4 linked regions of the Homo sapiens genome follow. The protein of the gene in region 3 interacts with the protein of the main gene of each other region in a pairwise test. Each region holds a gene or a part of one and is shown on either strand. Other genes may lie near its edges. The genes, in order: TRIM72, DCPH1, PPP3CA and ABI2.

Evidence for each region.
Region 1: the proteins of PPP3CA (region 3) and TRIM72 interact in binary tests that used the Homo sapiens proteins (3 or more experiments, as listed by UniProt).
Region 2: the proteins of PPP3CA (region 3) and DCPH1 interact in binary tests that used the Homo sapiens proteins (3 or more experiments, as listed by UniProt).
Region 4: the proteins of PPP3CA (region 3) and ABI2 interact in binary tests that used the Homo sapiens proteins (3 or more experiments, as listed by UniProt).

What each region holds. Positions count from the first base shown.
Region 1 is NC_000016.10:31,208,943-31,217,475, reverse strand, and holds the start of TRIM72 (tripartite motif-containing protein 72), read right to left. Parts: upstream 3,358-8,533; 5' UTR 3,179-3,357; intron 2,745-3,178; 5' UTR 2,738-2,744; coding exon 2,348-2,737; intron 1,515-2,347; exon of another isoform or gene 1,319-1,514; intron 734-1,318; exon of another isoform or gene 718-733; coding exon of another isoform or gene 448-717; exon of another isoform or gene 341-447; intron 1-340. Other genes in the region: PYDC1 (pyrin domain-containing protein 1), read left to right, coding at 448-717. UniProt on the Homo sapiens protein: Muscle-specific E3 ubiquitin-protein ligase that plays a central role in cell membrane repair by nucleating the assembly of the repair machinery at injury sites.
Region 2 is NC_000006.12:151,462,281-151,469,971, forward strand, and holds part of DCPH1 (damage-control phosphatase ARMT1), read left to right. Parts: intron 1-2,172; coding exon 2,173-2,338; intron 2,339-6,062; coding exon 6,063-6,830; 3' UTR 6,831-7,691. UniProt on the Homo sapiens protein: Metal-dependent phosphatase that shows phosphatase activity against several substrates, including fructose-1-phosphate and fructose-6-phosphate.
Region 3 is NC_000004.12:101,336,836-101,344,526, forward strand, and holds part of PPP3CA (protein phosphatase 3 catalytic subunit alpha), read right to left. Parts: intron 1-7,691. UniProt on the Homo sapiens protein: Calcium-dependent, calmodulin-stimulated protein phosphatase which plays an essential role in the transduction of intracellular Ca(2+)-mediated signals. Many of the substrates contain a PxIxIT motif and/or a LxVP motif.
Region 4 is NC_000002.12:203,330,849-203,338,539, forward strand, and holds part of ABI2 (abl interactor 2), read left to right. Parts: intron 1-7,691. UniProt on the Homo sapiens protein: Regulator of actin cytoskeleton dynamics underlying cell motility and adhesion. Functions as a component of the WAVE complex, which activates actin nucleating machinery Arp2/3 to drive lamellipodia formation.

The sequences.
Region 1 (8,533 bases), on a different chromosome or scaffold from region 3:
TGCCTAGGCTGGAGTGCAGTGGCAGAATCACAACTCGAACTCCTAGGCTCAAGCAATCCTTTTGCTTCAGCCTCCCGAGTAGCTGGCACTACAAGCATGAGCAACCATGCCAGGCTACAAAGCCACTTCTTTGCTGGGAGGTGCCTGACCATGGAATCAGTTCCATTCCTGCCTCAATGACTTGCAACCTGTTTCCTCCTCTGCAGATTGGGAACAGCAATCCCCACCTCAACAATTTGGCGCCCCCACTCTCCCAGGGGAAACTGGGGGACCCTCTAGGCGGTGTTTGCAGAGTCCCCTCCCAGCAGGAGCCACAGGGTTGAATAGGAGCTGCCAGATCAGTCTCCTTCCCGGGACATCCCCGGGGGCGGCAGCTCCACCTGCTGCAGGAAAGGTAGGACCTGATGGCTCCAGGCCCTCGGAGGCTCAGAGGCGCAGGGCTGAGCCATGGGAACGAAGCGCGAGGCCATCCTGAAGGTGCTGGAGAACCTGACACCGGAGGAGCTCAAGAAGTTCAAGATGAAGCTGGGGACGGTGCCGCTGCGCGAGGGCTTTGAGCGCATCCCGCGGGGCGCGCTCGGGCAGCTAGATATCGTGGACCTCACCGACAAGCTGGTCGCCTCCTACTACGAGGACTACGCAGCCGAGCTCGTCGTGGCCGTGCTGCGCGACATGCGCATGTTGGAGGAGGCCGCACGGCTGCAGCGGGCTGCGTGAGGGCCACTCTGAGCTGGTACGTGATCTCGGGACCCAACCCCGCTTCCTCGCCAAGGACCCACGCGTCAGGTCCCGCCCAGAGCCTTCCTGTTCCCCTCCTTCAGGGTCCCTCCTGGGGTCCTCCCTCAGACCTCCGGCCAGCCCCTCCCGGGGGCGAAGGGCTGGGCTGCCGCGAACCCTGGTGGGCTGCATCTCGCCCCACTGCCCCCTTCCAGGCTCCTGGGCTGCCTGGGCCCTGTTCCGTTTCATGGGTTCTGTGCTTTCTTCGCAGATAAAGACGGGCAAGGTTGGGCGAGGTTGGGTTTTTTTTGTTTGTTTGTTTTTTGTTTTTTTTTTAGCGGCAGCAAGATTTATTGCAAAGAGCAAAAGAACAAAGCTTCCACAGCATGGAAGGGGATCCGAGCGGGTTGCCCTGAGGTTGGGGTCTTAAGCACAGGTGTGCTGGGATGGGAGGGGTCCCGGGAGGAGGCTCCTGCCCTGAGCTAGGAGACCACCAGCTAGGACTGGGCTGAACTGGGCCAGGCAGGACTGAGAGGCTGGGTCCCTGGGAAGTCTGGGGGCCTCGAATACCAACGAAAGGACGGTGGTCTACCCCTTCTAGGAGGCGGGTCAAGGCAAAAGGAGTAATGCAACGCCTGTGAAGCCAGCCCCACGCGCGCACCAGTCGCGTAAGACAACAGCAGTGTCTCCACCTCGGGGACCAAGGACGCCTCCGTGCCTCCAGACCCCGCCTCCTCCAGCCCCTGCACCTGTCATTTATTCTTCCACTGCCCAATAAATATTCATGGCAGACTTTACTGGGGCTGCGCGCACACGTGCCCGCCGGTAGCTATACGTGTGTGCTTTTGCCACACGGATGACACGCACCAGCCAGTGTGCGTTCGTCTCTATTTGCCTCTGTCTGGGTGTCTCTGCTGGGTACTTCGGGACGCGCACAACTGCGTGTGGGCTCCCAAGGCTTTCGGGACTTCCAGCTCCACCCAGAAAAACATCCTGGACGGGGCTCTCGGTGCCACCCTGGGCCCGCACACATAAGTGCAGATCCCGGCTGCCTAGCCCTTACAGTCTCCCTTCTGGTGAGGCCCCGCCTGGGGACCGTCAGGCCAGCCCAAGTTCCGCAGCTTCAGGGGTGCGTGGGCCTCCGCTGAGCACAAGGGGACAACCCTGCCCCGGCCGCCTGGCTCGGTCCCGAACGCCGCGCCTCCAGTCCAAAGTGGGCCAGCGCCGAGCAGGGAGCCAGCCCGAACGGCCCACCGGGTGCAGGAATGCGAGCGTGGGCCGCAGGGGCTGGTCAGTCCCTGCTCCGCCTGGCTCCGCCCGGCCCATCAGACCCGCCCTGGGGCTCCGCCCGCCCATCTCCAGTTTCCTCTAGGGACTAAGGCCGGGAAACCTACGTTTGCTCAGCGCCCTTATCGCCAGGCTCCATCCCTGCGCGGCTTTCCTCTGCCAGCCCCGCCTTAAGCTCCTCAGACCCTCTTTCCTGGCTGCTTCGCCCCGCCCCCGCCCCCCGCAACTCCAGGAGCTCGTGAGCCTCTCTAGAGACTCAGAATCCAAATCACTGCAGCGACCTCCCCATCGGCCCCGTGCCACCGAACAGCCCCTCCGACCACGATGCGCGCGGATCCCGCACCTTGAGGCGTGCGTGGGCCTCGGCGGCAGGCAGGAGGCGATGACCGCGGTGCGAGCCGAGTGAGGCGCACACTCCGCACACCAGCGCGCGGTCCTGCTCGCAGTAGATGCTCAGCGGGTCCAGGTGCTCCTCGCAGTGGCCCTGCGGCACCTGGGCCAGCCCCTCCACCAGGCGCGCCAGCTGCAGGTTGGTGCTGAGTGCCTGCGGCCGCGTGGGGGCCTGGCAGCAGGGGCAGAGAACGGTGCCATCCGCCGCCGGCTCCCCGGCCACGCGGCCTAGGCAGGCGCGGCAGAAACTGTGGCCGCACTCGGCTGTCACGGGCGCGTCGAACAGCTGCAGGCACAGCGGGCAGGACAGCTCCTGGTGCAGGAGGCCGGGCGCAGCCGACATGGCGGGCCTGGGTGGAGGAGGAGTAGGTTAGGGGGACCCCGCGGCGCCGCGCTCCCGGCCCAGCCCTGGCCCAGCCCTAGCCCAGGCCGGGCCCGCCGCCCCGCAGGGAGAAGCCCCAGCCTGTAAAGACCTCACATCCTACACTGGATGGGACTCTGACGGCCAAGGGGAAAGAGGAACTCGGTCTCAGGCCCAAAAGCAGCCTCCACTGCAATTCTCAGCTCCAACCCCAAAAATATGCCCTATCAGTCAACCCCAGTTCCTGAACACAAGCCCAGATTCTAGCCCACTGTCCTTGCCCTCGCCTTAGCCCCAGGCCTCAGCCTCTGACCTTAGTCCCGGACCCAAATTCTCCAGAGCCCCCACTCCGAGACTCCCCTCCCTCACTTTACCAAGATACCCAGACCTCCCCTCCCCCTCTCTCCAGCCCACGGGACTCACAGGTCTGGTTGGAGATCTTAGGCTGAAAGAGTCTCGAAGGAGGACCGGTCAGGGTTGAGCTTAGCTGGACTGGGGTCAGGGCTGGGTCCAAGGATCTGAGACAAGCAGCAGGCTCCAAGCAAGGACAGGGACTCACAGGGGCAGCTGGCAGTGGACACCACGCGTGATGGGCACACAGTGCTCAGCGGAAGACCCTCCCAGACTGAGCCATGGCCCCAGGACTATATTTAGCTGCCCTGCCCAATCCCTCCCATCACTTCCGGAAACCGTTCTAAAAGTGAGGGCTGAGTAGTCCCTGGGCACACATCACATGACAGGGCCACCTGTCTTGGCCCATCCACTGTTCTCTCCCCGGCCTGCCTGGAGTCAGAGCTCAGAGCCAGCGGGGAGCCAGGGCCTTTCACACCACAGAAAAGACAGAAAATTGAAGGGGGTCTGCCCTTTCTCCCCCCACTCCCACCTCCACACTCTCCAGCTCCTTCCTCCTTGCTGGCAGCCCCTCCCCAGCCTGTCACCCACTCATTCCCCAAGTTTATGGCTGACCAAGGTCACCCTGGCAGGATTACCCCACCTGCAGGAGGGCAGGACCTCACCCCACCCTGAAATGTTTTCTTCCTCCAGAGCTGAGGGGAGGGTCTTTTCCACTTTGGTCTCTCTAGTACACCCAGGACAAGCCTGGGACAAAGTAGGCCTCTCTAAATGCTTGGAGAATGAATGATAGAGAGACATTGAACAAATGAATGAACTGAATCCAGAGCCTGCAGCCCAGAACTCAATTCTGCCCTGGTTCCTGTATGTGTATCTTTCAAATCTCAGCTGAAATTTCATTTAAGTGGCGCTGGGATAACTGGCTAGCCTTATGCAAGAGAATGAAACTGGACCCCTACCTTTCACCATATAAAAAAAATTAACTCAAGATGGGTTAAAGATTTAAATGTAAGACTTCAAACCATAAAAATCATAGAAGAAACCGCAGGAGAAATACTATTCTGGATATCAGCCTTGGTAAAGAATTCTTGACTAAGTCCTCAAAAGCAACAAAAACAAAAATTGTTAAGTGGGACCTCATTAAACTAAAGAGCTTCTGCACAGCAAAAGCAAAAGCAACTATCAACAGACAGACAACTGAAGAATGGAAGAAAGGCCAGGCGCGGTGGCTCACGCCTGTAATCCCAGCACTCTTGGGAGGCCAAGGCGGGTGGATCATGAGGTCAGGAGATCGAGACCACAGTGAAACCCCGTCTCTACTAAAAATACAAAAAATTAGCCGGGCGCAGTGGCGGGCACCTGTAATCCCAGCTACTCAGGAGGCTGAGGCAGGAGAATGGTGTGAACCCGGGAGACGGAGCTTGCAGTGAGCCGAGATCGCGCCACTGCACTCCAGCCTGGGGTACAGAGTGAGACTCCGTCTCAAAAAAAAAGAATGGAAGAAAATATTCACAAACTATGCATCCAACAAAGATCTACTATCCAGAATATATAAAGAAACTAAACATTTCAACAAGCAGAAAACAACCCCATTAAAAAGTTGGCAAGGGCCAGGCACAATGGCTCACACCTGTAATCCCAGCACTTTGGGGGGCCCAGGCGGGTGGATCACTTGAGGTCAGGAGTTTGAGACCAGCCTGGCCAACATGGTTAAACTTCGTCTCTATGAAACATACAAAACTCAGCCGGGTGTGGTGGCAGGTACCTGTAATCCCAGCTACTTGGGAGGCTGAGGCAGGAGAATCGCTTGAACCCGGGAGGCAGAGGTTGCAGTGAACCGAGATCGCACCACTGGACTCCAGCCTGGGTGACAAGAGCGAAACTCCAACTCAAAAAAAATAGCTGGGCATGGTGAAGAACACCTGTAGTCCCAGCTGCTCGGGAGGCTGAGATGGGAGGATTGCTTGAACCTGGGAAGCAGAGGTTGCAGTGAGCCAAGATCATGCCATTGCACTCCAGCATGGGCAACAAGAGCAAAACTCCGTCTCAAAAAAAACAATAAATATTAAAAAAAAGAAAAGAAAGAAATTTCATCTAGAATAAAAACCAAAGTGCTAACTGTGGCTTACAAAGCCCTATCTGCTATGACCCCATTAATCACTCTGACTCTTTTATCACCCCTTTCCCCATTGATCACTCGGCATCAGGGACTTTGCACTTACGGTCCCCTCTGCCTGGAACACTCTCCAACCCAGGTACTGCATGGCATCCTCTTTTTCCTCCCTCAGACTTTGCTCAATATTACCTTTCCAGCAAGACCTCTCCCAATTCCCTGATTTTAAATCTCCTAACTCCCCAACATCTCACTGCCTGGCTTTCCTTTTCTCCATAACATTTATCAGCATCTGACATGCAATGTATTCTACTTGTTTGCTGGTTTCTTGTCTGTCTCTTCCTACGGAATAGAAATTGTGTTTACTGCTTGTCTCCAGCTTAGACTAAAGTGTGTGACACACATTAGGCGCTCTACAGATACTAGGTGAATGAATAAACACGCAAACTCAGTCCCTCTCATTTGGCCTCTCCATCTTTCTCTTAGCTTCCCTCAAACCTTTTCCTGGTTTTACTCTTTCCTCTCTCAACTGCTGTCTCTCTCAGAATGAATTTTTGTTTCTGTTTCACTCTCTTAATCTCCCCTTTGGACTCTCCCTTTGCCTGTCTCTTAGGTTCTTAATTTTTTCTTTTTCTTTTTTTTTTTTTTTTTGAAATGGAGTCTTGCTCTGTCGCCCAGGCTGGAGTGCAGTGGTACAATCTCGGCTTACTGCAACCTCCACTTCCCAGGTTCAAGCGATTCTCCTGCCTCAGCCTCCCGAGTAGCTGGGATTATAGGCACGTGCCACCACGCCCAGCTAATTTTTGTATTTTTAGTAGAGACGGGGTTTCACCATGTTGTCCAGGCTGGTCTCGAACTCCTGACCTCAGGTGATCCACCCGCCTCGGCCTCCCAAAGTGCTGGGATTCCAGGCATGAGCCACCACACCCGACCGCTCATTCCTTCTTGCATGTTATGTGGTGACAGCATGAACTTCTGCTGGCCTGCTTAAGAAGGTAGCTACTTCAGGCTGCCTGACACCTTGTTTAACCTAGGCCCTCGTTCAGGCTGTAAACATTTGGTTCTTTTAGGAGGAAAAAAAGTTCTATTATTCTTTTGGATAAGAGCAATTACCTGTATAAATGACTGCAGATAAAATTCTGAAATTAAGATGTGAAAAGTCTCAGGAAGCTGGTGCTCTTTTTTTTTTCTTTTCCTTTTTTTTTTTTTGTTTTTTTGTTTTTTTGTTTTTTTGAGACGGAGTGTCGCTTTGTCGCCCAGGCTGGAATGCAGTGATGAGATCTCGGCTCACTGCAAGCTCCGCCCTCCTGGGTTCACGCCATTCTCCTGCCTCAGCCTCCCGAGTAGCTGGGACTACAGGCGCCTGCCACCACGCCTGGCTAATTTTTTGTATTTTTAGTAGAGACAGGGTTTCACCATGTTGGCCAGGATGGTCTCGATCTCCTGACCTCGTGATCCGCCTGCCTCGGCCTCCCAAAGTGCTGGGATTACAGGCATGAGCCACTGCGCCCGGCCAAAGCTGGCGCTCTTTACCGGCACACTGAGAAATCCAGGGGAGTTTTGTGTCCCCACCTTCTTTGTCCTTAAGTCTCTGAGGTCTCACTGTGTCGCCCAGGCTGGAGTGCAATGTTATAATCATAGCTCACTACAGCCTCGACCTCCCAGGCTAAAGTGATCCTCCCACCTCAGCCTCCTGAGTAACGGGGACCGCAGGTGTTCACCACCATGCCTGGCTAAAAGCCCCTGATTTCTTCTCTTCCATTCTTGATGGCTCAGACGCAGCCTTGTGTTAGCAATAGGAAGAGGTTTGAAAGAGGGTATATCTGGAGCTGGTCTCTGAAACCACAAGTTGCTCATGCTCAAAAACTCAACTTCCAGAACTTAAATCTCATCCAGAGTTTCCAATATTGCCAAGTTGGGACTGAAGGTCCTGCTGTCATCTATAGGAGTGGGTGTCTAAGACAGGTGGGTGATAGTCAATTCAATCCTTCCCTGCAGATGGGCCAGGACTGGCCTCTGATCCACGGAAGGAACATTGATTGTCTTAAGCAGACTGAGAACAAGAAGAGGCAATAAGCCATGTGCAGGGAAGGAGGGAGTGGTAAACCGGTATAGCTGGCCCTATGAGGTCCCTCAGACCTAAAGAGCTAGGGATAGATTTCAGCTTGTCCTAAGGGAAAGTTTCCCAACAGCTCAAGCAATGAGTGCCTTGGAAGGTAAGAGCTCCTAATTATTGGGTACATGCAGAGAGAGGCCAGAAAGCCCTAGTCAGGGCTGCTACAGAAGCAAGTCCTGAATGCTGACTTCATGAGCTCATGCTGGGCACCCCTGGGAAAATCACCTGCCTCTCTGGGCCTCAGCACGTTCAAATACAATATGTGGATAAATAACACCATCCTGGCTGGGTGTGGTGGCTCACACCTGTAATCCCAGCACTTTGGGAGGCCAAGGTGGGAGGATCACTTGAGTCCAGAAGTTCAAGACCAACCTGGACAACACAGCGAGACCCCCGTCTCTACCAAAAACAAACAAACAAACAAAACAGTATAGTGGCTCACGCCTGTAGTCCCATAGTCCCAGCTACTCCAAAGGCTGAGCCAGGAGAATTGCTTGAACCCTGTCTCAGAAAGAAAAGAAAAAAAAAACCATCCCATAGAGTTGTCATGAGGATTAAACTGAAAAATATGCCACATAGGCCGGGTGCAGTGGCTCACACCTGTAATCCCAGCTCTTTGGGAGGCCGAGGTGGGGGGATCACTTGAGGTCAGGAGTTCAAGACCAGCCTGACCAACATGGTGAAACCCCATCTCTACTAAAATTATAAAATTAGCTGGGCATGGTGGCTGGTGCCTGTAACGCCAGCTACTTGGGGGGCTGAGGCAGGAGAATTGCTTGAACTCAGGAGGCAGAGGTTGCAGTGAGCTGAGATCGAGCCATTGAACTCCAGCCTGGGCAATAAGAACAAAACTCAGTCTCAAAAAAAAAAAAAAAAAAAGAAAGAAAAAAAAATATGCCACATAAACAGGGACAGTGTGCTGGCACCCAAGGGCTTAGGAAGCAGTGACTGTCACTTCCAGGTTCCAGTCCTGACTAGAATTTCCTTGTTGTGTGACCTTGGGCAAGTCGCTTAACCTGATTTTCTCACCTATAAAATGAGAATCATGTAAGGATTAGTATCAAGACTATGTATTTCTGTAAAGATGCAACAAGTAAGTTGTTTTGTTTTTTGTTTGTTTTTTTTTTTTTTTTTTTTGAGATGGAGTCACTCTGTCACCCAGGCTAGAGTGCAGTGGGGCCATCTCAGCTCACTGAAA
Region 2 (7,691 bases), on a different chromosome or scaffold from region 3:
TGCCCAGATCAAGAGACGGAACCTTACAGACCCCAAAAGTCCACTTTGAGTCCCTTTCCAGTCACTGCCTTCATTACTCCTCAAGGATAACCATTGTTCTGACCTGTGTTAGTTTTGCCTGTTTTTTAACTTTACTGAAATGAAATGATACAGTGTATAGTTTTGTGTCTGGCTTCTTTCACTCATTTTTATGTTTGTGAGACTCATCCATATGTTACAATATAATTATAGATCATTCATTCTCATTGCTTTATAATATTGCATTTTATGAGCATATTACAATCTGTTTACTTCGTTGTGATGGATATTTGAGTACTTTTCAGTTTGGAGTTGTTAGGAAGAATGCTGCTATAAACATTCTGACACTTTTTTGCTGAACATATGTATGAATACATCTGTTGGATATATCCCTCCCTAGAAGTGAATCACTGGGTCATAGTGTGTGTACATACACAGCTTTAGTAGATTCTAAAATAGAAAACATTCTAAAATGAGAATTTATATATAGTTATGTGAGTTTACTCTCTTAAATACGAAAATAAGGCTCATTCTTAATATGAGATGTGACTTTAATGAATGGTTTGTTAATAAAACATTAGAACATGTTTTATTAGAACTTTCTGTAAAGGGCCAGGTAGTAAATCTTTTAGGCATAGGGGCCATGTGGTCTCTGTTGCAGCTGCCGAACCTGCCATTGTCGTGTGAATGCAACCTTAAATAATATGTAAGAATGAGCATGGCTGTGTTCTAAAGAAACTTTATTCAGCGGACACCGAAATTTGAATTTCATGTGTTACAAAATACTACTTTTCTTTCACTTTGTTTTCAGCCATTCAAAAATATAAAAACCACTCTTAGCATGTGAGTCAGACAGAACAGGTGGTGGGCCGGATTGGGTCTGTGCATCCGAATGATTTTTATCCTTTTAAGTCACCTTGAGAGACTGACTGATTTCAGCGGTGCTGCCATTGCTAAAACCATCTTTGAATTATTTGGAACTTCTTTCAGAGCCAGTTTACATGCCTCAAAATGAAAATTAGTCTTCCTGTATTTTTACTCATTTTTGATTAAAAAAAAAGTTTTTATCCAATTTGATCACACACCTCATTCTACTGAAATCACTCCGAGTGACTTTTGGCTGTTTCCAAAAATAAATTGACTCCAAAGGATGAAGATATGTGATCACTGACAGGAGGTTTAATGATGTGCCATAGGTTCTGAAGAAAATTCCTAAAGAGGAATTCCAAAAGTGCTCTGAGCAATGGCAGCGCCCTTGGAATAAGGGTGTAGCTTCCCGAGGTGACTGACTGGCTGGAAGGAGGCAGCCATCATTTGGATGTTTAAATACTGGTATGTTATTTAAAAAAACAAAACAAAACAAATCAAGCCGATTACATCAGTGTTAGATTGTTTTTACCCTAACATGAATGACCCATGGAAAAAGTAGCTAATTTGGAAGACCCAATAATCTGAATGTCTTTTATATTCAATTCAGTAAAGATTATTATATTAGTATTTATATCTCCTTAGTTATGATTTTCTTAGGCCAATATAATATGATTTAATCTCTCACTGGAAAACATGAAGGTGTAGCCATGCCACATATATCACCTTTGGTTAAAGTTGCCCAAAAATACCTAAAATTAGTGATAAAAAATTATCATTCTTCTAAAACTTACAATAGTATTGTCTGATTTATCTTAAGTACTCATTGTATTTCCATCATACTCTGTGTTTCATTCTGTTAATGATTGCTGCATTGTATTCAAATATTCTGTTTATATTCTATACATTTGTTACTGGAACTCTGCCACATCGGTGGTTAAAAAATGTTTGTTGAACTAAAGCAGTTGTCTTGAAATTTATCTTTCTCCTTCTTGTGCCCTGGAATCCCTGCTAGGTAGATAATTATGAGCATAGTCACTATCACTATTTAATATGTCCAGAAAAATACTTGATTTGGGAACTTTTTTGACAATTAAAATGAGTTTGAGAGATTTTTGTGTAATTTGATTATTTAGTATTAAGTTTTTCTAGTTAATTAGATAAATGTTATATCTAGTTTCTGTTAGCACTGATTATTGAGACTGTATGGTGCTATTTTCTTTCAAGAACTGCAGTTATCCAAATGTACAAACTAAAATGTTTCACTTTGTTTTTCTCCTACTTTAGTCCACCAATCGATTACTTTGATGTATTTAAAGAATCAAAAGAGCAAAATTTCTATGGGTCACAGGAATCCATCATTGCTTTATGTACTCACCTGCAACAATTGATAAGAACTATTGAAGACCTAGATGAAAATCAGCTGAAAGATGAGTTTTTTAAACTTCTGCAGGTAAATGTGATCATTAATCTTCTGAGTATGTTTTATTTAAACAGAAAATAAACTGCTATACAGTTAACAAAACATGTAAATATTTTTCTTTGCTATAATTGATGATTTTTTATCTAGTGGTGTTAAAAGATGAAAATCCATTTAATTGCTAGAAATGGGTTTGAAATATTTTTCTGCTCTCACTGGCTATGATTTTAGTGGCAAAGAAGTTATCTGACTTCCTAGCTTCTGTCATACTTGAGAGAATACTTCATAGTAATTTGCTTAGCTTTTGTCATGCTTGAAAGAATTCTTAATAGTAATTTGGTCTCCCAGCTGACTTGGGTGTGTGTTGGCTCTGTGGCTAATTTGTGTTTGGACCTGAGGCCTGTCACTTAATTTCTCTGGGCCTCAGTTTCCTCCTCTGTTCAGTGAGGATAATGTGTACTGTGTAATTTGATGTGAGAATTCAACTAGATGCTTGCATGTGAAGTGCTGAGCACAGAGCCTGGGATACAGCCTGCTGTTAGCATCGGTAGGTGATAATACTCGGGTATTCAGTTGGCCCATTAATACAGTTTCATTACATTTCTTTATCTTGTATTCAGTTTAGTTTTTAATTCATGCAAACATCCTGAAATTTACAACACATTATTAGAATCAGAACTATTAGGAGACGTGGTACACAGCAGTATCCCCAGCCCTCACATTTTCCAGAAAAAGTGAGGAAGACTTTCAAAAAGAAATGTTAGAAAGTGCTATGAAGAGAAATAAAGCAGGAAAAGGGCGTTGGGAATGTTGGAGAAGGGATCAGGGCTGCCAGGGAAGGGTCCATGGAGGCTGAGGCCACAGACCTGAAGGCAGGGAAGGAGTAAGTCAGGTGTATGTCTGCGGAGTACATGGAGAGGTGAGAAAAATTGCAAGGAAACCCTGTAGTTACTGAGAGGTAGCGGGGTGGAAGGGACACAGAACGGCTTGTATTAAATAAATTTTTACTAAAAGTGAAACAGAAGCCATCAGAGGGTTTTGAACAGAGAGGTAATGCTATTTGACTATTTCAAGGAATGTTTCTGAGAATAGACTGCAGGGGCTGAAGGTGGAAATGGGGAGAGCTGGTCTGAAAATGACTTGGGGAGGGAGGTTGGGGCCAAGTTGGTAGCATAAGAGTTAGTGACATCACCAGAGCCTGGGTGTTCTTTGAACATAGAAGCTACAGAACTTGCTAACAGATTATACCTGGAGACGAAGCCCTGGTGAGACCCCGAGGGCAAGCAAAGTCACAAATAAAGGCATATTTTGAGTTCAAAACAAAAATTGTCAGGACATTGTTTTGTTTTTTGAGACAGAGTCTCGCTCTGTTGCCCAGGTTGTAGTGCAGTGGCACGATCTCAGCTCACTGCAACCTCCGTCTCCCGGGTTTAAGCAATTCTCCTGCCTCAGCCTCCTGAGTAGCTGGAATTACAGGCGTATGCCACCACACCTGGCTAATTTTTGTATTTTTAGTAGAGACTGGGTTTCGCCATGTTGGCCAGGCTGGTCTTGAACTCCTGACCTCAGGTGATCTGCCCACCTTGGCCTCCCAAAGTGCTGGGATTATAGGCATGAGCCACCTTGCCTGGCCCAGGACATTGTTAACTAATAAACCTTGTTTTTTGTTTTTTCCTGTTAACTCTGCCTTATGCTTAGCCTTGGAATTAAAAAAAAAAAGACTGGCATGCTAGTTCTTGACTCCTAGCTAGCCCATTCTTTCAGGGAATCATCTTCTTTGAATGTGTTCTTTGTCCCATAGTATAATAAACTATGAAGAAGAATGAGCATGCATCTATTTTCTGTCATCTGATTTAGCTAACAACTTCTTCACACTGTCACTGTGCTCCCAAGTGAAGGGGGCCAGAGTTGCCTCCATTTGGTGTCCGCAGTGAGCAACAGGTTAACGTTTCAAGGGAAGCTTGAAAACATTCTCGTTTTCAGAGAATGTTGATCTCTTTCAAAAGTCATAGCACTCTCCCACTGTCGACACACACATTTCTGGGGCTACTGTGTCAAATGCCATTCTAGGTGCTGGGCACGTAGTGGTAAAACAAGAACAGGCTGATCCTCCCTATCAAAACTTGTAATCTTGAGGGAATATAGACAATGAAGTAATTGCACAAAGAGCTATGCCATTACAAACTGGAAGACGGTGTGAAGGGAAAGTGCAGGAGGCTAGCACAGAACCTGCTCTCAGTCGCTGAAGGCCATCGTGGACACCATTGTATGAATTTCTTCAGGAAACTCTAGAAAAAGGTGACCTTGGACACTTTAGTTATTATTTAAGCCTTTTTTTTAAAAAAAATTTATTCATTTATCTCTTTTTAAAATAATACTGTTCGGCCGGGCATGGTGGCTCACACCTGTAATCCCAGCACTCTGGGAGGCCGAGGTGGGCAGATCACCTGAGGCCAGGAGTTTGAGACCAGCCTGGCTAACATGGTAAAACCCCATCTCTACTAAAAATACAAAAAATTAGCCAGGCGTGGTGGTGGGCGGCTGTAATCCCAGCTACTTGGGAGGCTGAGGCAGGAGAAAAGCTTGAACCCGTGAGGCAGAGGTGCAGTGAGCCAAGATCGCACCACCGCACTCCAGCCTCGGTGACAGAGGAGACTCTATCTCAAAAAAAAAAAAAACAAAACCCTATTGGTTGGAACATGCATTCTCCTTATTTTAAATCACAAATGAGGGCCTGACAAGGTGGCTCATGCTTATAATCTCAGCATTTTGGGAGGCCACGGCAGGAGGATTGCTGGAGGCCAGGAGATGGAAATTAGCCTGGTCAACATAGTGAGACCCCATCTTTATTAAAAAAAAAATCACAAATGAGAGTAGAGTCTGTTTTGGCTAGTGTTTATTGAGTACTTCTATATGCCAGGTATTTGGTACATTATTTACATGCATTATATCAATTCTCACAATAATTCTGTGAGGTAAGTACTAGTATCTCGTTTTTCAGTTGCAGGACTTGAGCCTTAGAGAGCTTAAGTAATTTGTTGATGATCATAAACTGAAGATGCTGAGTTTGAACCCAGGTCGAGCTGGAAGTCCTAAACGTGTAATTTTATGGCTTAAAAAAAAATAGGCCTACATACTGTTTTTCTACAAAATGTAATTGAGTATTAATTCAATTTAAAGCTGAATAAGATAATTGATTACAATGGGTCTTTAGTTAACATGACCTTGTTTAAAAAGTAGCGTCTTTAGATATCACTTTGTTCAGTTTTTTAAATTTTACAAATGAGAGAACCAAATCCCAGAGAGGTGTCACGTCCTAAGGTTATGCAATTAGTGAAAGAAACTGGACAGTTCTGCAGGGCCAAGGAGGAAAAAATAAACTTTTATTTCTTCTCTTGACTCTGGATTATATGGGCAACTTTGAGCCTCTCTTCACACATCCGATGATGTTCTAATATCTGCAAGCTGCAAAAACTTTTATTCTGAATAAACAATGTGAGTGCTGAAATAATTGAAACCAGTTTTTTTAAGTCCATTACATACTGATGAATTAAAAATTTCAGTTTTATCTTGTTAATACAGCATCATGTGAAATAATTTTTGTGCATTGTTAGAGAAAGTATAGATTTGATGGTCATGTAAAGAGTTTTGTAGATATTTAGTAGTTTTTTAGCAATGTCCCCCCATCCCGCTACATAATGGAGTTTTGTTGGCTATTCAGAAGAAGGGTGAATATTTTGTACTTTTTCTTTTTCAGATTTCACTGTGGGGAAATAAGTGTGATCTGTCTCTCTCAGGTGGAGAAAGTAGTTCTCAGAATACCAATGTACTAAATTCATTGGAAGACCTAAAACCTTTCATTTTATTGAATGATATGGAACATCTTTGGTCATTGCTTAGCAATTGCAAGAAAACAAGAGAAAAAGCTTCTGCTACTAGAGTGTATATTGTTCTCGATAATTCTGGATTTGAGCTTGTTACAGATTTAATATTAGCCGACTTCTTGTTGTCCTCTGAACTGGCTACTGAGGTTCATTTTTATGGAAAAACAATTCCATGGTTTGTTTCTGATACTACTATACATGATTTTAATTGGTTAATTGAACAGGTAAAACACAGTAATCATAAGTGGATGTCCAAGTGTGGGGCTGACTGGGAAGAGTATATTAAAATGGGTAAATGGGTTTACCACAATCATATATTTTGGACTCTGCCTCATGAGTACTGTGCAATGCCTCAGGTTGCACCTGACTTATATGCTGAACTACAGAAGGCACATTTAATTTTATTCAAGGGTGATTTGAATTACAGGAAGTTGACAGGTGACAGAAAATGGGAGTTTTCTGTTCCATTTCATCAGGCTCTGAATGGCTTCCATCCTGCACCACTCTGTACCATAAGAACATTAAAAGCTGAAATTCAGGTTGGTCTGCAGCCTGGGCAAGGGGAACAGCTCCTGGCCTCTGAGCCCAGCTGGTGGACCACTGGAAAATATGGAATATTTCAGTACGATGGTCCCCTTTGACTTGATTTAGGAGCTCTCAGTTGCATAGAAAGATCTGGTGAGCACCTTTTCATCCCCAGAAAAGGAGCACGTGAATTGAGTCGCCTGGCGGCTCTGTACGCGCTCAGGGAAGCTTAGCTTCTTGGTGCCCATCTACGTGCACTGGATGATTTTTCTTTTGAACATTTTGCCCCACTACACTGTTTTGGGGATAGCTGGGTTAAGCAAGTTAAAGATATTTACATTTATATTGGAATTTTAGCAACTTTTTTTCAGGTTAAATATATAATTTCAAGTGCTTTTAATGAACTTATTTTTAATTGGCTAGGGAGCAAAAAATAAGTGAGTTCTGCTTTTAGTTAGTTAACCTTGTTCTTTTCTTAAATAGTACACTGCATGGTATTTAATATTCCAGGAAGCATGGGATTTTATTTTGCTTGATTTTGGGCACATGAAATAATAGCTCTAGGAAAATGCGCATCTTAATGACTCTTTGTAAAGAGAGGCATTTCTTACAACTGTGATGTTTGCTTACATAAAAGTTACCTCATAAGTTAATTCTAACTTTTATTCTTGAATTTTATTTCATTTCAATAGCTTGTTTCATTTGCACGCCTTTGTATTTTGATTGACCTGTAGAATGGATGTTAGGAAACTCAAAATTGAACACAGTGAAACAAATGGTATTTGAAGAAATGTAATATCTTTTATATTCTATTTATGATATCCATAATCAAATGAGATTATTTTACCACATAAATGTTTTAAATATCAGATTTTTAGTTTGCAGTTTTAGGAAAATGCTTTAGATAGAAAAGGTTCTTATGCATTGAATTTGGAGTACTACCAACAATGAATGAATTTATTTTTTATATTCTTACA
Region 3 (7,691 bases):
GAGAGGCTGGAGAGGGAGTTCCACATTAGAGATAGCCTAAGCTAGAATTCTGGTGTACCTTCCAATTCTGGGAGTCTCATTTGTAGGCCTAAATTCAGGCATGAGCAAGTGTAAGAGATCAAAGGTCTCCCCTACATCCCCCAATCCTTCTCCCCAGCAAATAGAGGGTTCTGAGCCAGACAGAAAATTAGATTTCCATGGTTCCTTCCAGCTTCAAAATGCCATAATTTTAGGCTTAGACTATTCTTCAGCACACATAAAGTTCACATTTACAACAAAAATAAATAAGAATCATCTATTCTCTCCATTCAGAAGATTCCCATAAACCATCCCAATGTTAAATGCCCCTAACTGGTTAAATTTTTTTAAAAATCACCTAATTCTCTGATGCTTCTAAATATTTTCTCTTCTTTAGTTGACTGGGGTGATGAACAACTTCTGAGTATGATCCACTACAGAAAGAGACTTTCTAATATTTGAAGCCTCTAGTTAAATCACCACTCACCCTTTTTTGTTCAGACTGAATAATCTCTCACTTCCTGTCACAATTTATTTAAAGTCCTTTAATCATCTTGGGGACTGTTTTGTAAAACATACTCCAAAATTTAACACATCCGTTTCTGGAAGGGCACGTGGAACGAGATAGAGTACTCAGGGAGAATTCTGACCAGAGGCGAGGACAACAGAGATTCCCTCCTGGTTGCTGAATGCAAATCAACAGAAGCTAACAGTGAGATTTTATGTAGGAAACTATAGTTTCCTTAGTCTTCAACTCTTTGAAATGAAAGTATTTCTGTGTTAGTGAGACAAAGTATATCCCGGCCCATGTGAGAGACTGGAAATATTCATTCAGAACAAAAATAAAATGGAGCTTGGAAAGGCCCAGCTGGCTTTCTTTAACCAGAAGTCATACAACCACATCTGGGGTAGCGCAGCTTTAGCGGTCTTCTGTAAGGATGGGACTAAGAGCAAGTGCCTCACTATACTGCCACTCTGTTGGTGTGGAGTCCAGTACTGAGCTTTTCTAAAAACACTCACCATGCAGACATGCCATCAGGAGAGGTGACTCATGAGCAGCCTGTACTCGTGATGGGCCTGAAGATTTTTTATTGGTATATACACAGTAAGTTATCACCTATCGGGGTGTACAGTATGTTTTAATCTCTGTTCTAATTCCTAATCTTATACATTTTTATTCATTTGAATTTGCACATTGTGAAGACTAATATGGGCCTCCCATATGCTTGTCAAATGGCTCTCCCCTCAATTTAGTATCATCACCTGTCTTCCTGAGAAAGAAACCATCACTCACCTTTGAGGAAATCAACCTATACACCTTGTGACAATAATCCATTAAAAGTCAAGCACTCCCTATGGGAAGGCCACTTCTGCCAGTTATGCTTCTGCATGCTGGCTACCGAGCAAAATCCATATAATGCCAGTTAATAAAATACAGCACTTCAAAAACTCACAGGAAAACACACTTCTACAAAGACTGGAGCTTACAAGTCAAGACTCATCAGACATTTGTGTACTGATCACGATTTAAGATTGACAAAATTTCAAAACATAAAGGAACCCCATAATTTAGAAATTTAAATCCATCTTATCCTTTGTTATTTCATTCCTGTAACAACTATGTATCAAATGCCTATTCTACAGCAGGCCCTGTGCTAGAGCTAAAGACACAAAAGTAGATAGAACTTCTGTCTCTAGGACTTTCCACCTCCTGGGGAGGAGAGGCAGACAAGGAAACAAGTCATCACAGCAACATGCTCTTATCAAGGTGTCCTCTGTGAGAAGGAAGAGGCTCAATTCCTTTATTCTAAGTGAAGGTGTCAGGAGATGCAGGTCTCAAAGGAGGTAACTTCTGAACTGAAGCTCGAAAGAAGAGAACTGAATGATCAGGAGAACATTTGTTATCCCAATAATCAGGCCCAGCAGAACAGGAATGTGTGTAACTTTAATAGCATTAAATATACATGAACCAACAATGCCAGATTTATCATTTTTTAAAATCAAATTCCTTTGTAAAAAGCAAACAAAAAATAAAACAAACTTGAATTCCTGACTCAGGTTCCATCTTTTTAAGAATATATCTTGCTTTTAATTTAACTTGATAAAACAGCATAACTTACAAGATGTTTTAAAAACAAATGTCAACGGATGGCTCAAAGCCCACTTGTGAGAATCTAAGGAGACAGCAGCGTTAGTGCCACCTTTTTCTTAACTTTTCATAGCCCATGTATCTTTCCACTGGATGGCATCCAATGACATTTTGGGGGCCAGAGAAGGGAAGGAGGTCATGTTGGAGAAGGCAGCATTTCTGGATTACAGAAGCATTATAGGAAATGATATATTGAGATGTAAACAGGGAAAGAGGTTTTTTCCAATTTGTTCTTTTTCATGAAATTTACCAGGTCATTTTATCTTCAAGTCCAAATCTAGACAATAACTAAAATACACAAATCATCCAATAATCAAACACTCAGTGATTAACATATTTTTTCTCATTTGTCAGAAATTGACCAGCCTAAAGGGGAATACAATAAAAACTGAAAGACAGCTGTCAGGTTCAAGCAAATAAATTAAATTGAATAGAACTTAGCCTTTTACATTCAGCAGGGACAAAGTGAGTTCAAGTGACCGAACAGAACAGCTCTCATTCTAATTGTGTAACCTTATTAATGCCTCCTTCTCATACTCCATGCCCTGATTGGGCTGGAGAAAGAAGCACTCCAATTCGCCAGTCACCATACAGAACCAGTTACAAATGGAACTTAATATAATACACTCAAAATAAAAACAATTTAGAAGGCTTCAGGAGGCACATGAGAATTTTACAATATCCATCTCATTCAAAAGAATTTATTCAGTGCATTTAATAAGCAAGGCATTGAGCTAGGGACCAATAAGACAATGACCATTTTTTCCAAACTAAAACTCTGAATACAAATATTAACAATTTTATGCAACTTCCAAGTATATGCAGCAACCAAGACACATAGTTTAGACACTGACATACTAGAATTTCCAAAACATTCTGATATTACATAGAAAGAACTGGACATTTTAAATAAAAACTACTACTAATTCTTCCCCAAAGAAAGGAAAACTGGGACAATAAAATCACCACAGAAAGACTCTAAGTCTAAGAATCTTAGAGCTGATGAAAATTTTTTTAATTTAGCTCCATATAAATAAAACTCTCTCTTTGAACATCAACCATCATTCTTCCGGTTTCACAGTTGTCAAAAGTACCTGAAATTGACAAACATTGTAAACTAGTATGTCATAATATTGAGATAGCTTTTATAAATCCCTGATATCTATTTGTTTCCCTCTTTTGCAGACAGACACAAGCAAAATTTCCAGTTGCAAGAGACAGAAGTTCACAGACAGGTAGACCATTTTTTAAAATAGAGTCATAGTATATTTTGCTGTGAGACAAAAGCATGGATAAGGAAAACAAAAAGGACAGCAAAGTTCTATTCCTCTCTATGATGGTCTCAAAAAGAATCTACCTGAATTCCAAAAACATAGCATTTTAATAATTTATTGCCACTTTGTCAGTGAGGGCTTTTATTTTTTTAATATCTAAAGCTTCCACTACCCGAGTGCATATTTGTTAAAACGGATTTGAGATACCAGCAACTGGGCTAGGTCATAAAGTTGATAACCCATCTGATTTAAGCCATTATTCAGAACCCCTAACCATGGAGGAATACACAATTGTTATTTCACTTCTCATATGAAATATAATTGATGGATTCATATAAAAGATGGAATTATTGTAAAATAAAATGATTTTAAAATGCTGAAAATGTCAAGAGTACTAAAGACTTAATTTACAAACTGAAATCCTATTTCATTGCCTACATCAGTCCTACCTAATGACTGCTTTAAAAATAGGAATGCAACACCTCAGAATCACTGGCTGATATTTTCACCTGAGCCTGCTCTAGAAATTAACAAAATCATCAAATCTGAAGATTTTGTTTGTCAAACCAGAGCATCAGTGTGGGTCATTAAGTGGAGTTCAGAAAAACAGGCTTAAGACAACATCCTTCAAAATGAAAGTAAATAACATTCTTTTGCAGGAGAGTATACTATTCTATTTCTGTGTATATATTTACCTGAACAGAAAGCAATGTTTAACAGTATTTCTTTATAAACCTCAGGCCAAGGTCAGACTAAATTATAATATTTATCACCAGAATTTGATGTCTGCTAAAAACAGAAATATAAAAAGCTTCCTCTCCTAATCAAACTATTTTACATAGTTAATTATTTAGTAAAACAAAATGCGAAATGAAATGTGAAGATATCTTAAATATACCAAAAGAAGTGGCCATTTTCTTTTTTTCTTTTTCTTTTTTTTTTTTTTAAGAGATATGGTCTTGCTATGTTGCCCAAGCTTCCACCTCAGCATCCCAAAGTGCTAGGATTATAGGTGTGAGCCACCACACCTGGCCAGTGGCAATTTTCAAAAATGTTTTCAAGCAAGAAAAGCCTCTTTAATAAAGAAAATAATGTGTTTACACTTACCTGTAACCATTCTATCTATTCTGTCTCCACTTCTTTAACTATAAAAATAAATGTCATCATAAGCTACTCTTGACCCAAGGCACTCATGGCTTTCAATGCTAATGGTTCTGACTATTCTCAGGTGACCAGAAAATACATAACACGTGTCATTTCTAATTCTGTGTTAGCAGTGACTGAATCGCCATTACCAGGCAGTGGACAAAGTGTTAACCACACACTCCCCATTTCCCATTTGATTATCCTTCGGTCCTCACAAGTTGACAGTGGATACAATTACTCCCCTTTTATGTATAGAGAAAGTTAGCCTGTGAAGTTATAACATATACCAGTGGAATTACAGAAAGCTGAAGTTCAAGGTCTCACCATATCCCTCTTGTATATCAAGAGACTGCTACATCAGAAAGTTGCTGGAAAAAAATTGACAAAATGATTTTTAGTAATTATCAAAATTCTATATCATGAATCACCACCATTCTTCATAGTTCTAGAAGTATTCAAAATGGTAATTTAACCATATTTGCTAAAAGGAGAGTGAGTATCTGCAAAAATGCTGTTTTCCAATGAGGTCACCCTAAATGGATTCTTTATTTGGTGTCATAATTAGTTTCAAATTTACACATAGCTGACACAAAAAAAGATAAGGAAAAGCATGAGAGGCCAATTACAAAAGTTATAAATGAATGGTCTATCAAAATTATATTTCATCTCGCTAAAATTACAAATAAAACAAAGAGACAAATAGATTTTAAAAGGCATATTTTTAAACAAATCTTAGAGTAAACCTCATTAATTAGATTCTAGATGTTAATTTTTTCCTATTTTAACTGGATGTCTTAAGATAAACTGTCCATTTAAAATAAGGGTTCTATCCCACACTTCTCAGAAAAACTATTATCTTCAAAATGTTGATTATTCTAATTGATGGCATTTTAGAATCACTGGAATTCCCCTGAATCCCAGTCTCAATTGTTGCATTAATCATTAAATTTACTGAATGTTTTTACAACAATGCACTTGTGTTATATTCACTTTATAATAGTCCCAAAAGGAAATGTTAATAAATAGACCAACCTAACTCGTAACGAACAGGATGAATTTGCATACTGTTCACTAAGTATTGAAAAGAATTTGTTCTCTTGGTATATTAACAATGCTGGAACTATGTTGTTTATACTTTTTGGTTATCGGACCCCTTTCTTCACATCCAATGCTGATGTAAACTTCAGCCAACAAACACTGGTGTTTTTTCACAATAAATTTAAATTCATGATATTGAATTAATAAAGTTTCACTATACTCAAATTGAAAACCAGATACATGAAACTCAACTGATGGTAACAAAATGTCAGTAAAATAAATTCACAAGCTCTTCCTGGAACACCACAAATAAATGACATTATTTACTACTCTGTTGCATCAAGGTCTAAACACGACAGTTACTACGAATGTGACATATTTGTTTTCTTTTTAAGTAGTATTATCAGTCTCACCCAGCTAGAAATACTAGTGGCTGGAATCCTTATTTACTTAATAATACTTAACTAGCATCTTCTTGCTTCTATGATCTTAGCATCTTTCAGAATTCTCCTATGTGTACTCTGTCTACATGAAGTACGTAAGCTGGCAATACACCTGAAAAACAGCTCATTCTCTATGGCCAAAAGCAACCTTACACAAAGCACAACAACGCATTATCTATAGTTTCTGAGAGATTCCACAAAACTCTTCTCAGAAATTTATCCCTCAACAGCCTCCCATAGTTTCTAAAATTTCTACCATTACCATCGGTTTGAGTTAAGGTAGAAGTCCCATCACAAAATACTTGGAGATGGGAACAGAGGGAAGGTAGGTTAAGAGATTTAACAAAGCCAAATACTCATTATCACATAGGGTTTAATTTCCTCTAAGTATTTTTAACTATCACATAGCAAAGTTCCATGACCAATAGGGAATGCTAGGGCCAGACAAAGCATTCTAGGCAGGAACAGAGAGAAATGAAGAAAAGCCAAAGTTTGAGACAAGGCCTGTAGAGTATCACTAAGAGAAAAATCAGGACGGGGGTCAAGGGGAGGAAGACAGTTATTCTTCTATTTATTGCCCTCGGTTTGCTGTATGTATCTTTAAAAATATAATGTAAAGCAATAAACGGACCATATTATTTTGATTTCCAGCAAAGGTCATTACCAAGATGTTTTCTCTGAATTTTTCTACTTTCCATTGTTTTAATCCAAGAAGAGTCAAAATGATACAGCACTAGTTTTGCTAACTGAAGTAACTTTCTCTCCTGGGATAATCTAAACAAATACTTTTCATCTCCACTGCCATCATTCTCTTTCATTTTTAAGGTTTAGAAAACCGATCAGGGTCTCTGAATACATGCTAGCAGATTCTATAAACCTCAAAAATAACATAGTTGAGACAGACTCAACCTACGTCTCTAAAGCTGCATTCTAAAAGTACAATTAAGAAAACAGTCACATCATATTACTACAAACCACAAGCACATCTTTATTTGTAAATAGCAATTTCTTATACAACAAAAGCCAGATGACACTAATAAATATAACTGTAAGCAAATGCCATGGCATGCCATGGTAATAACAATCTGAATATTTATTTTTGTATGTATATATAGTAAATAATACTACACATACTTCGTAAAAAAGAGAAAACTTATGGAGCACAAATACTTCCTCAAAGATAATTTCTTTTCTGTATTAAAGAATGAGTTAAATAGCCATTGAGATGAAGTTCTAACAAAATTTCAAGTAAATAATGGTTTCTAAACTCCATATTATCTAATTTTTGCAAATTAAATCACTTGTTAATATGTTTCACATCCAGCATACGCGTACTTTCCATTCATTCAGTACGTGTATACATACTCAAGGGGAAATATTATTTCACAGAAAGCTAATAATCAAAATAGATTATCTCAAATAACTAATAATAAAAATCTTATGTATGACAAAAGGTTGAATCCAACCTTGTATAATGCCTTTCATGCCAATAATATTCTACAAGAAAACAGGATAAACAATAACAGTGTATCCACCTTAAAATCAGGATTCATCAACAAAACTTCTATAAACAAAATTTCACATTTCACATCTCACATCAGGATCTCTATCAAAACAAATGCA
Region 4 (7,691 bases), on a different chromosome or scaffold from region 3:
ATAAGGATTATTAAAGCTGAAAGGTTAAAGGCATCAGCAGTTTTCTTTTTAAATATTTTATACATTTCCTTCAGTTGAAAAGAGAAAAACGTTACTACTATCAATCTCTGTTTTAGCAATGGGACTCAAAATTTAGTGTGGTGACATTTTAAAATTTAAAGCATAAATATTGATTAATATTAATTTAATAGAAATGAACTTAGATTTTAAAATAGTTTATTTCTTCAGTTTAGCATCTGAAGTATATTTTACACTTTCTCTTTTTTGATTATCATTTATTTTAGGATGCCTTAGGTATATAATTGGTACACTCTCAGGATGATAGCTCTTATATGATTTGTTGATTTGTTGGGAAAGTTGATAAATAGAACGTGGTGACAGTGGATTTGTGCTGATCCAGCTGTACATTTGGTTGACCAGCAGGGGTTTTGATGCTGCCTGGACCCTGCAGTAGATGAAAGTTAATTCACAGGATCAGTGATCAAATGGTCAATTTAGCCTTTTTTTTTTTTTTTTTTTTCTGAGACAGAGTCTCACTCTGTCGCCCAGGCTAGAGTGTAGTGGCGCGATCTCGATCTCTGCTCACTGCAACCTCCGCCTCCTGGGTTCAAGCGATTCTTCTGCCTCAGCCTTCCAAGTAGCTGGGACTACAGGTGTGTACCACCATGCCTGGCTAATTTTTGTATTTTTAGTAGAGACGGGATTTCCCCATTTTGGCCAGGCTGGTCTGGAACTCCTGGCCTCAGATGATCGACCTGCCTTGGCCTCCCCAAAGTGTTGGGATTACAGGCGTGAGCCACCGCACCTGGCCAATTTAGCCTTATTATAGCATCATGTCTTAGCCACTAGCTCGAGTTAACTAACCCAACACTCATTTTATTGTGTGGAAATGTAATTTTTGCCTATAAAGTAGAAAAAAATCTGTTTATCATGTGTAATAAGTGTTTTTGCTCAGTGTTCTTTTTTTTTTTTTTTTTTTGACACAGAGTTTCACTCTGTCGCCCAGGCTGGAGTGCAGTGGCGCGATCTCAGCTCACTGCAACCTTCGTCCCCCGGGTTCAAGTGATTGTCCTGCCTCAGCCTCCCGAGTAGCTGGGATTACAGGCACGTGCCAACACGCCCAGCTAATTTTTGTATTTTTGGTAGAGATGGGGTTTTGCCATGTTGGCCAGGCTAGTCTCAAACTCCTGACCCCAGATGACCCACCCACCTCGGCCTCCCAAAGTGCTAGGATTACAGGCGTGAGCCACCGTGCCTGGCCCCCTAAGAGTCATTTTTAATAAAAATTTAGATAGTTTCATTATTCTAACCTCTAGAAAATGGGATAGTCAATATTTTTTCTAAAATATGATAAACAGGTATAACTACAGTTTGCTGATATTTATCAGATCAATTTTATTTCTTGCCTATACAAAGGATTTAGTAGTTGGTAGAGACTTTTTTTTGAGATACATGTAAGACCTGCGTTTTTCTTCATTTATTAATATACACACCTAGGCCGGGCACGGTGGCCCACGCCTGTAATCCCAGCACTTTGGGAGGCCGAGGCAGGCACATCACGAGATCAGGAGATCCAGACCATCCTGGCCAACATGGTGAAACCGCGTATCTACTAAAAATACAAAAATTAGCTGGCTATGGTGGCGTGTGCCTGTAGTCCCAGCTACTTGGGAGGCTGAGATGGGAGAATCACTTGAACCTGGGAAGCGGAGGTTGCAGTGAGCCAAGATCATGCCATTGCACTCCAGCCTGGGCGACAGAGCAAGACTCTGTCTCAAAAAAACAAAAATTACACATATAATGCCTAATATGTTTGAAGGTGTCCAGGAATTAAAAATGTTTTGGTTAACTTGGAATCTACGTTTTTACAAATAGAAGAATTTTTATTACAATATAGTTGTCTTAATGTTTTGGTAGATGAAATAACTCCCTATTTGTTACTTCCCTGAAATCTGAAAAGCCAACTTGTTGATATGTACGTTTTTCTTTTTGTTAGATAAAAGTTACTGATTTTTGTGAGTGACAGTTCACATAGATGCATAGTAAAATCTTATTGTTTGGATTAAGAGTAGAATCATCCCATAATATGGATTTATTCAAAAGAGAAGAAATTAAGAACTTACCTTAAATTTTTACCTGAAATATTTTTGAACAATAGGAGACATATTAGTAGCTTTCCTTTTCTTCTCTTAATCAATGTGGATACTCCCAGAGTTCACTAAAAACTTCATGAGAGGTTTACAAGGGAATATTATCAGTCAGTTTCATCAAAAGTAATTACCAAAATGATACAAAGATTTAAAATTTTTATTTAATAAAAATCATTAGAATACATGCTCATTGTTGAAAAATTATTGGAGAATACAAGTAGGTATTATGAAAGAAATGGAAAATTGCCCGATCATCTTGAATATATATCTGGTACTCATACTTTTAAATATTTTTTGTATGCACAACTATATATCAATATTTTTGTAGAAATGGGTTTATGTTCTATATTCTGTACCTTTAAAAGAACCTTTTAAGGATGCTGGGCTTGACTTTTTTTTAAATGGATGTCATATACTATATTGGGAGGAGGTTGGTTATATTTATAGGTCGAGTTCTGTATGTTCTTGCAAATGGGAGAATCTTAGAATACCTAGAATGAAGGAGAAAGAGGTCAGTTGAGAGTAAGGAGACTGAGTAGAATTTGGGAGACTGAATTCCCCATAGATTAAGATGACTCAACTCATTTGAAATTGATCAAGGCTTACCATTCCTCAAGAAATTAGTCCCTAACTCTCAGCAGAGACATTTGGTGAATAGATTTTCAGTGACAAATCAGTCATCTTCAAGACCTTTGACAAGATTGCAAAAACAGGCTAATTTATATTTGAGCCCCTTGCTCTTTTAAACATTTTGTCATTTGTACACTTCCTACACCTTCTTGTCCAAGGAACTTAAGTGACCTCATAATTTCCGTTATTGATCCAGGAAATCCAGTCTCACCTCATTTCACCCTTCCTTGAAGAGCTTCCTGGTTCAAAATTGCTCTTTACCAAAATAATTAATTAATAAACTGTTCATTTATTTTTTCTTTTCTTTTTTCTTTCTTTTTTTTTTTTTTTGAGATGGAGTCTCACTCCTTTGCCCAGGTTAGAGTGCAGTGGCGTGATCTTCGCTCACTACAACCTCCGGCTCCTGGGTTCAAGCAATTCTCCTGCTTCAGCCTCCTGAGTAGTTGGGACTACAGGCATGTGTCAGCATACCCAGCTAATTTTTGTATTTTTAGTAAAGACAGGGTTTCTCCATGTTGGCCAGGCTGGTCTCGAATTCCTGACCTCAAGTGATCCACCCGCCTTGGCCTTCCACAGTGCTGGGATTACAGGTGTGAGCCATCGTGCCCAGCCTCATTTACTTTTTCTTCTTACCTTGGTATGGGTAATGTGAGAATGTATGATAGGTTTACTTTATTTAGAGTCATCTTTTCTCACCCAGAGAATAATATATAAACCAAATTGGTTTACTTATGTGTAAAATATGTAGTAGAGATATTTTTGAGCATGAGGTGCTTTTGGTGTTACTTTTTCTTTTAAAATGCAGGGAATTTAATAGTATGCAGTTTCAGGGTGTGTAAGGTAATCTTTTGGTGGATGAAATATATTTGGTGGATGAATATGCTGTGATTTGCTTACACCCACCCCAAATCCATTTTGCAGCACCCTACTCACTGTCCAGAGATTCTGGGAAAAAAACAATAGAGAAGACAAAGCCAGTCTAGACACCATTTGACTCTACCTTGTGAATATTCTGAAAGTTACATTAGGCTAGTTGTAGATTTTTTTTTTTTTTGAGACAGAGTCTCTGTCGCCCAGGCTGGAGTACAGTGGTGCGATCTCAGCTTACTGCAACCTCTGCCTCCTGGGTTCAAGCAATTCTCCTGTCTCAGCTTCCTGAGTAGCTGGGATTACAGGTGCACGCCACCACGCCTGGCTAATTTTTGTATTTTTAGTAGAGACGGGGTTTCACCGTATTGGCCAGGCTGGTCTCGAGATCCTGACCTTAGGTGATCCGCCCGCCTCGGCCTCCCAAAGTGCTGGGATTACAGCGTAAGCCACCGTGCCTGGCCTAGTTGTAGACTTTTGATAGCTTATGGTTGAATTTTTATGGGATTGGTTAATAGATTGGATTCATGAGGTAGCATGTAGGGCAACACATTCTATTTTGGATTTTTCATTTACTTTGTGTTTCCTTCCAGATACGAAGCTCCTAGAAGATGGAGTCATTTCTTAAAAATTTCTATATTTTCCCATTAGCCGTAGGATGTTCTCCATATACTAGCCACTCATTAAATAGTTGCTGAATGTAAGAAATACAGACTTGAATATGCAAGAGCCTATGCACTGAATTATTTTTATTTTATTACTTTATTTTATTTTATTTTTTGAGACAGGGTCTCACTCTGTCACTCAGGCTGGAGTGTAGTAGCACGATTATGGGTCACTGCAGCTTGCACTCCCAAGCTCAAACAGTCTTCACACTTCAGCTCCCAAAGTAGCTGGGACTACAGGCTTGTGCCACCATGCCCAGCTAATTTTTTTTGTTGTTGTTGTTAGAAATGGGATCTCACTATGTTGCTCCGGCTGGTCTTGGAACACCTGGGCTCAAGCAATTCTCCTGCCTTGGCTTCCCAAAGTGCTGGGATTACACCTGTCAGCCGCCATGCCTGGCCTTGAATTATTTTATAAGTAGGATATAATTACATGTAAATTTACCTTGCAAGTTTTTTCCTATTTGATTTTTTGGTGACATTTATGTTCTGTAAAGTTTTGCAGTACTTTTCATATTTGCATAATTCATGCAAGGAACATAGTTTTGCTTTTTTCTTCTTAAGTAATATACTTTGTAGAAAATTTGGATGAGGTAACAGCTTTGTTTTGAATCATTTACAACATGAATTTTTTCTCATTTGATTTTTAAAGTCAGGTTTATTGAGTTTTAATACATATATGGTACAAGTCACCCTTTTTAGGTGTAAAGGTTTATGAATTACAATAAACTTACATAGTCATGTAACCACCACAATGTAAAATTTTCCTTGTACCCTCTGTAGTCAGTCCTGTCCCTCCACTACTAGCCTTTGGTAAACACTGATATATTTTCTGTCCCTCTAGTTTTTGCCTTTTCCAGAATGCCATATAAGGGGCATTATGTAGTATATAGCCTTTTGTGTTTGACTTCTTGGTACTAGAAGTCCTAATACATTTGAAAATCATCAGTGTTATTGTGTTTTGTCAGTACTTTGTTCCTTCTTATTACTGAGTAATATTCTAGAGTATGAAAGAATCATAATTTGTTCATCCATTCACCAACTGATGGATTTCTGGATTGTTTCTAGTTTTAGGCAGTGGTGAATATGGCTGTAAACATTTGTATACAGGTGTTGGTGCAACCTAAGTCTTCACTCTTTTGGGTAAATTTAAGGGAAAAGATCAACTGTTGTACCCTGGTAACAGTGGATGTATCCACATAGGCTGCATAGGCCAGTGCTTGAACTGCATCTGATCTGAATCTTGGCCGAGCACTTTGTGATCCTCTTGGAATATAAGATTATGGAAGTTTGCGAGGACCTTATGTGAAGCCCTTTCTCAATCTCTTCATCTGCCGAGGAGGCTGTACGTGATAACAGTGCCTCATCACCTCCTAGTTCCCATGAGATGAGGCTCTCTATTGTACCCTTTTAGGTAGTAGCTGCAGGCTGTAAGACTTTAGTTGCAGCATGGCATTGGCTCCTCCGCAACAGAGTGTCATATCTATGTTGTAGTCACCTGGCTCCTTTTGTTTTAGTATTGCTTTACACAAGGGCTGTATCTTTTACTACTATTCCTTCTGCCCTCCATGTAAATGGTAGGCTTTCTGAACCTAACAAGCAGTTGGGCAGGTCTATCACATTGCCTTCTCTTTGCCTTGACAATAAATATCTAATAGTGGGATTATTACCGTATGGTAAATGTGTGTTTAGTTTTATACAAATTGCCAAACTCTTTTCCAAAAACGATGGTACCGTTTTGCGTTCCCACCAGCAAAGATCCAGTTGTTCTTCATCTTTGTCAGCATTTGGTTTTGTCAGGTTTTAAAATTTTAGCTATTCTCTTGTTAGTGATGTCTCAAAGGCCATATATGACAAGCCTACAACTAACATCATACTCAACCATGAAAAGTTGAAACCTTTTCCTCTAAGATCAGGAATAAGACAGTGGTGCCCAGTGTCACTAGTTCTATTTAATCAAGTACTGCAAAGTACTAGAAGTCCTAGCCAGCCAGTTAGGAAAGAAAAATAAACAAAAGGCATCAAAATTGGAAGAAGTTAAATTGTCTCTGTTTGCAAATGACATGATTCCTTATGTATACAAAACCCTAAAGACTCCACCAAAAGACTGTTAGAATTAATTAACGAATTTAGTAAAGTTGTAGGAGACAAGATCAACATACAAAAATCTGTTGTGTTTCTACATATTAACTACAAACGATCTGAAAAATTAAGAAAACATTTCCATTTATAACAGCAGAAAGAATAGAATACTTAGGAATAAATGTAATCAAGGAGGTGAAAGGTCTGTACACTAAAAACTATAAGACATTTATGAAAGTAATTGAAGAACATGCAAATAAATGGGAAGATATCCCGTGCTCATGAATTGGTAGATTTGATATTGTTAACATGTCCATACTACACAAAGCCATCTACAGATTTAATGCAATCTCTATCAATATTCCAATGGTATTTTTCACAAAAATAGAAAAACCCTAAAATTCATAGGAAACCACAAAATACTTTGAATAGCCAAAGCAGTTTTGAATAAGAACAAAGTTGGAGGTATCATACTTCCTGATTTCAAACTATATTACAAAGCTATAGGCCTGGCATGGTGGTTCATGCTTGTTATCCCAGCAGTTTGGGAGGCCTAGGTAGCCAGATCACCTGAGGTCAGGAGTTCAAGACCAGCCTGGCCAGCGTGGAGAAACCTCATCTCTACTAAAAATACAAAAATTATAGGGCATGCTGGCACACGCCTGTAGTCCCAGCTACTCAGGAGGCTGAGTTGGGAGAATCGCTTGAACCCAGGAAGTGGAGGTTGCAGTGAGCTGAGATCATGCCACTGCACTCCATCCTGGGCAACAGAGCGAGACTCTGTCTCAAAAAAAGCTATAGTAATCAAAACAGTGTGTTACTGGCATAAAAGACATGTAGACTAATGGAACAGAATGGAGCCCGGAAATGTAGCCACATCTGTGCAGTCAACTAAGCTTTGATAAAGGCACCAGGTACACAATGGGGAAAGGATAATTCAGTAAATGGTATTGGGAAAACTATATCCACATGCAAAAGAATGAAATTTGATTGTTATATCACACATACAAATTAGCTAGAAATGGATTAAAGACTTAAATGTAAGATCTGAAATTATAAAACTCTTTGGTATGGGTCAGATGTTTGTTCCCTTCAAATCTCTTGTTGAAATGTGATTCCCAGTGTTGGAGGTGGGTCTTGGTGGGAGATAATTGGATTATGGGGGCAGATCCCTCATGAATGATGTAGCACCATCCCTTTAGTGATAAGTGAGTTCTTGCTTGGTTCACGTGAGAACTGGTTGTTTAAAATTAGTCTGGGAGCCCCCCCACCATGTGACATGCTGGCTCCACTTCTG